2 separate regions of the Homo sapiens genome follow, and region 2 is linked to region 1. Evidence: fine-mapped expression QTL. Tissue or cell type: thyroid. Region 1 holds a variant in brackets; the other region holds the start of a gene. All regions are shown on one strand. Distances are from middle to middle.

What was found. PIP is the estimated chance that this variant, and not a neighbour inherited with it, causes the effect.
Region 2: SHC2 starts here. The variant in region 1 is fine-mapped to the expression of SHC2 in thyroid (GTEx, PIP above 0.99). The same link has a PIP of 0.9 or more in atrial appendage, breast, esophagus mucosa, esophagus muscle, hypothalamus and prostate.

What each region holds. Positions count from the first base shown.
Region 1 is chr19:437,678-440,352 of GRCh38, forward strand. SHC2 (SHC adaptor protein 2) reads right to left here. Exons shown (of 13, transcript NM_012435.3): 3 at 1,293-1,353; 4 at 1,041-1,160. Among named protein-coding and RNA genes, the nearest start is that of SHC2, 22 kb to the right of the region's middle. The variant G/A (reference allele first, on the strand shown) is at 1,378.
Region 2 is chr19:459,901-462,575 of GRCh38, forward strand. It overlaps SHC2 (SHC adaptor protein 2), which reads right to left and starts at 1,133. Exons shown (of 13, transcript NM_012435.3): 1 at 629-1,133. The coding sequence starts at 1,096.

The DNA of each region.
Region 1 (2,675 bases):
AGCTCCATCCTTCTCTAGCCTCCTCCCTGGAGCCCCAGCTGCCCCTCACCGCCACCTGCTGCCACCACACCAGCTCAGAGATGCTGTCTCACCCCAAACTCCTCACGATGATCCATGCTAACTTCTCCGACAAGGCGATGCCTCCTCTTTCAGCCACACCTGAGATTCCCCTCCTCACCACCTCCCAGAGCCCTCCAGGAAGTCTCTTCTAGCACCCAGAGCCCAGCACATGCTCAGGACACCCCTCACCTGGCCTCACAATGCTTCCTAAAATCTGTTATTTCCTCTATTTCTGCAATTATAGTTTTTTGTTTTTTGGTTTTTTGAGACAGAGTCTCACTCTGTTGCCCAGGCTGGAGTGCAGTAGTGCAATCTTGGCTCACTGCAACCTCCACTCCCAGGTTCAAGCGATTCTCCTGCCTCAGCCTCCCAAGTAGCTGGGATTACAGGCGCCCACCACCACACCCGGCTAATCTTTGTATTTTTTGTAGAGTCAGCCATGTTGGCCAGGCTGGTCTCGAACTCCTGACCTCAAGTGATCTGCCCACCCCTCAGCCTCCCAAAGTGCTGGGGTTACAGGCGTGAGCCACTGAGCCCGGCCTCACAGTGCTGGGGTTACAGGCGTGAGCAACCAAGCCCGAGCCTGGTCTGCAATTATACTTTTGTTGTTTGTTTCCACTTGAGGACTGATAGCCAGGGTTTATCCCCGCCCCTCCCCAGGCACTGTGGATGTTGGGACGGACCACTCTCTGGGGTGGGGCGTCCTGGCCCCTGCAGGGTGCTGAGCAGCGTCCCTGCCCCCACCCACTCCATGCCAGGAGCGCCCCTGTATCAGGACGGCTCGCCCAGGTGGGAGCCCCTGAGCTGAGCCCCGTGAGGGCAGTGGCTGCACCCCCAGCTCCTGCTCAGCGGGGCCTCGGCTCGTCTTTCTGGATAAACGCCACCTGCTGCCCGCCCCCAGCACCCCACCTGGCTTTGCCTCCTAGGACTCCTGGCCCCTCTGGGGGTCTGGGGACGCCAGGCGAAGAGGGCAGACCCACCTGGCGCGTGGCAGGCACGGAGAGGCTGAGGCCATCAGTGGAGATGTGGATGGAGATGCTCATGCCGGCAAAGCGAAGGTTGCTCTTGCCCAGGACGGACGCCAGGGCCTTGTTGGGGGCCTGAGTTGGGGGCGGAGCACAGCGAGGGCGGCTGTGGGTGGGGGCTGTCGAGGGGCTCCCAGGATGGCCGCAGCGTCCCCACAGCCCCCGACTGCCCCACCAGCCCCACGAGAGACCACAAGCCTCACTCACCTTTTTCTTCCAGGATCCCCGGACGCCAGGCACGGCCTCATGGAGCCGGTTGATGGCTTCCCTGGGGTTGGGAGGAGGGGGCTTA[G/A]AGAGTGTGGTGGGGGTGGCCATGGAGGGAGCTGGGGAGGAAGGGGTCAGAGAGGGCGGGGGTCTGGGGAGGGGGCAGGAGCTCAGAGAAGGGCGAGAGAGAGGGGAGAGGAAGGCAGAGAGGGAGGGGTGGGAGAGGATCAGGGGGCCTAAAGTGGGCAGGGAGGGGGCTGGGGAACCTGGGGGAGGAGTGCCCCACAGGACAGGTGCAGCTTGGGCACCAGCCCACTCCACGTGCGTCCTTGCATCCGGCAGAGGCCCGGCCCCCAGCTCTGGCCCCTCTACCACCCTCTTTCCCAGGGACCAGTGTGTCCCTGGCCTCGGCCCACAAGGAAGGCTCGGCATCAGATGTGGGGGTTGGAGCAGCGAGCAGGAGGCCCTGAGCCTGACGCGGGGTCCGTGTCGAGATCCTGTCTGCAGCCTGAGTGGTGGCAGGAGCTGACCCCAAACAAGAGCGCCTCAGACCACTGGTCCCCAGGAGAGGTTAGAAGTCTACAGGGTCCTGAAGGGGCCCCGGAAATGTCGGCGTCACGTGGAGAAACCAGATCCCCCACCCAGGGCATGTGGGAATTTTCACAGCACGGCCACTGTGGAAAACAGCCTGGGGGCTCCTCAAAAGGTTAAAAATTGGCCAGATGCAGCGGCTCCTGCCTGTCATCCTAGCACTGTGGGCCTGACACAAACAAATGCATGCAGGCGCGGCGGCCCCCACCTGTCATCCCAACACTTGGGGAGGCTGAGACGGGCGGATCACCTGAGGTCAGGGGTTCGAGACCGGTCTGACCAACATGGAGAAACCCCGTCTCTACTAAAAACATAAAAACTAGCTGGGTGTGGTGGTGGGCGCCTGTAGTCCCAGCTACTGGGGAGGCTGAGGCAAGAGAAATGCTTGAACCCAGGAGACAGAGGTTGCAGTGAGCCGACACGGTGTCACTGCACTCCAGCCTGGGCAACAGAGTGAGACTCCATCTCAAAAAAAAAAAAAAAAAAGGAGCAAGGCTCTGACCCAGGCCACAGCGCGGACACACCTCGGGAACGCCATGCTCAGTGAGAGACGCCAGACACACGAGGCCACGCAGCGTGTGATCCCATTGCTATGAAATGTCCAGGACAGGCCGATCCACAGAGACAGGGAGGGGATGCGTGGGTGCCGGGGCTGGGGAGGGGACGGGGAGTGGCTGTGATGGGGACGGGGTGTTTTGATGGGGTAATGAGAATGTTCGGAACTAGACAGTGGTGATCGTGTGACTCTGTGAAGAGCCTAAAGTCTCAAACTGTACATTATATCTCACATACGCA
Region 2 (2,675 bases), 22 kb after region 1:
TAAACCACAGAGAGGGGCAGACCCGTCAGCAGAGGGGAAGGTTACCCTCCTAGGTGGAGGCGTGCTGTGTCCAGGCGCCCGACTTCCCCGTGTGTTTGAAAAGGTTCATTTATCATAAGACCCAAGGTAAATAAACAAAGGCCGCTTCCTTGGCCGCCCTGGAAGTCCCTGCTGCCTCCCATCTGGAATCCTGGGGTCTGTCCGGGCGCCAGCCCCTTTCCAAACACCCCTTCCCGCACCCCCACCGCAGGCCAGCGTCTCGGGCCCCGTCTGTCATTCGTGAACAGCTGTCCGGGGGGCTCCGGTGGCAGAGACGCCCCGGCCGCTCGCCGCTCTCGGCCTCGCCCGCCCAGTCCGAGTGGGGGGCGGTGCACCTGCGCATGCGCGCCCCTCCCCCGCCGCCCTCTCCCCGCCCCTCCCCACGTGACGCCGTGGGAACCCGGACCCCAGCGCCTCCGGGTGGGGGCAGCCGCCGGCCGCCGGCCGGGGATGGGGGTCCGGGGTGGCGGGAGAGCAGGAAGGATGGGGAGGGGACACCTGGCTCGCGGGGTCCGGGGGTCCCGGAGGAGAGGGTGGGGGAGGGGAGGCCGCCGCGAACGGGCTCCCGGGGGGGGTGGGGGGGACTCACCCGCACGACGTAGGAGACCCCGGGCCCCAGGACCCTGGCGTCGGGGTGTAGCCAGCCGTGCGCGGGTTTGTGGATGAAGCTGCCCTTCCGGATCCACTCGGCGGCGGCGGCGGCGTCCCCGGACCCCGCCGCCCCCCGCCCGCCCCGCGACCCCCGCGACCCCGCGCCCCGACAGCGGCTGAGCGCGGGCAGGGGACAGGGCGCGGCGCAGCGGGGCTCGCAGGCGCCCAGGACGGCGGCCGCCAGCGCCGGGACGCCCCCCGGGCCCGCCGGCTCGGGTTGGGGGTCCGCGCCCCCCGAGGCCCCAGCCGCCCGCGCCGCCGCCGGGCCGCGGCCCAGGAAGCCGCCCGGGGCCGCGAACTTCCACTGCGGCATTCGGGGCAGCAACGCGCAGAAGGTGGTGGGCGCCTCGGGCTCGGGGGGCGCGGGGGGCGCCGGGGGCGCGCGCCCGCCCGGACCCTGCGTCATGGCCGCGGCCGCCCGACGGAGCCCGACCGGGCGCTGCGCCTGGCGCGGAGGAAGCCCTCCCGCTCCGCCCGCTCCCTCCCGCCCCCCGGCCCGGTGATGTCATCCGCCCGGCCCAGCGCGCAGCCGCGGGGGGCTGCGCCCCTGGGACCCCGGCCCTCCTCGTCCCGGAGCCTGGCCGCGAGGCTGGGGAAACTGAGGCCCTCCGAGGACACCGGGCGCTGGCCTGGAACCCGCAGCCAAGGCGGGACGGGGCTTTGAACCCAGAACCCCGTCAGCGACCCTCCCCGCTGCGCCCCCCACCCCCGCCCGCCGCCCAAGTTCGCAGAAGGACCGAGCTGGAGAAGCTTAGAAATTCCACATCCCTTCTTTCCCCTATTTCCTAGTGGGGAAACTGAGGCCCCGGGAGGCGCGGCCAGGGAAAAGAGAACCCCAGACCCTAAGGTCAGCCCCTCCCTCTCCGTTGTTGCAGCTAGAAGGTACCTTAGGGTCACCCCTATTTCTTAGTGGGGAAACTGAGGCGCGGGGAGGGGAAGGGGCGCGGCCGAGGGCTCACAGACGAAGCTCAAACCCAGGAGTGCCGGCTCGGGGGTGGGGGGGGGGGGCGGGGCTAGGAGCGGAGCCGGGCCCCTGCTCTGCGGCCTGTCCCGGCCTCAGTTTCTCCGGCTGTAACTCAGGGGAGCGGGCTGGAGGGTCGCGGCCCTTCTTCCCTCACTTCTGGGGAGCCCAGTCCCGCACCAGCTCATCTGAGCTCTGGGCCTCAGCCTCCCAGGCCGGTCGCTCCATCCCCAGCCTCAACCTCTCCGAGACCGGCCGCACCTTCCCTGGCCTCAAGGGTCGGTTCCTTCTGCACCAGAAAACGGGGTGTCACTGTCACCCCGGGACCCAGCCTCCTGGCCCGACTTGGCTGGAGCTCCCCTGCACCTGCCCCGCCCCAAGCAGGGCTGATTGCCGGGAACAAAGGGAGGGGCCGGGACGCGCTGGCAGGTGGGGAGGGAGGGAGGGGCGAGGCTGCCCGGAGCCCGATCGATAATTCAGGGGATGAGATCACAGCCGGCGCCGCCCGCGGGGCCGGGGAGGTGGGGGAGGGGAGCGAGGCGCGCGGTCGCGATCGGCCGTCTCTGCCGCGGCGCGTGTCGGACTCAGCCCCTGCGCGTCCGCGGGAGGAGCAGATCGTGGGCGCGATTGGTCGGGCTGGAGCCGCGGCTGGACCTGCGCGCGGTGTGTGTGTTGTGCGCAGGGTGTACGCTGTGTCTGGGTGCGTGTCCAGGCATATGCAGGGGATCCAGGCTGCTGGGTCCTGGGGTGTGTTCACCTAATGGGTAAAGGGTGGGACAGGTTTGGCGGCCCTAGGCTGAGGGCTGTGGGCTGAGGAGAGAGCAGCCCCACCACCCCCTCTCTGCGCCCTGCATGCCTCCCAGGCTGCATCCCTCAGGGAGGTCCCGGGGCAGTGTCGCACCCTCCCAAGCTCCGGGATTAGGGTCTTTCTGGATGGGAGGTTTGTAAGGTGGTCCAGGTGCCATCCCTCCCTGGCACACAGAGGGCTCAGTCACACGGCACCCCCGGTGTGTTTCCTTCCTGT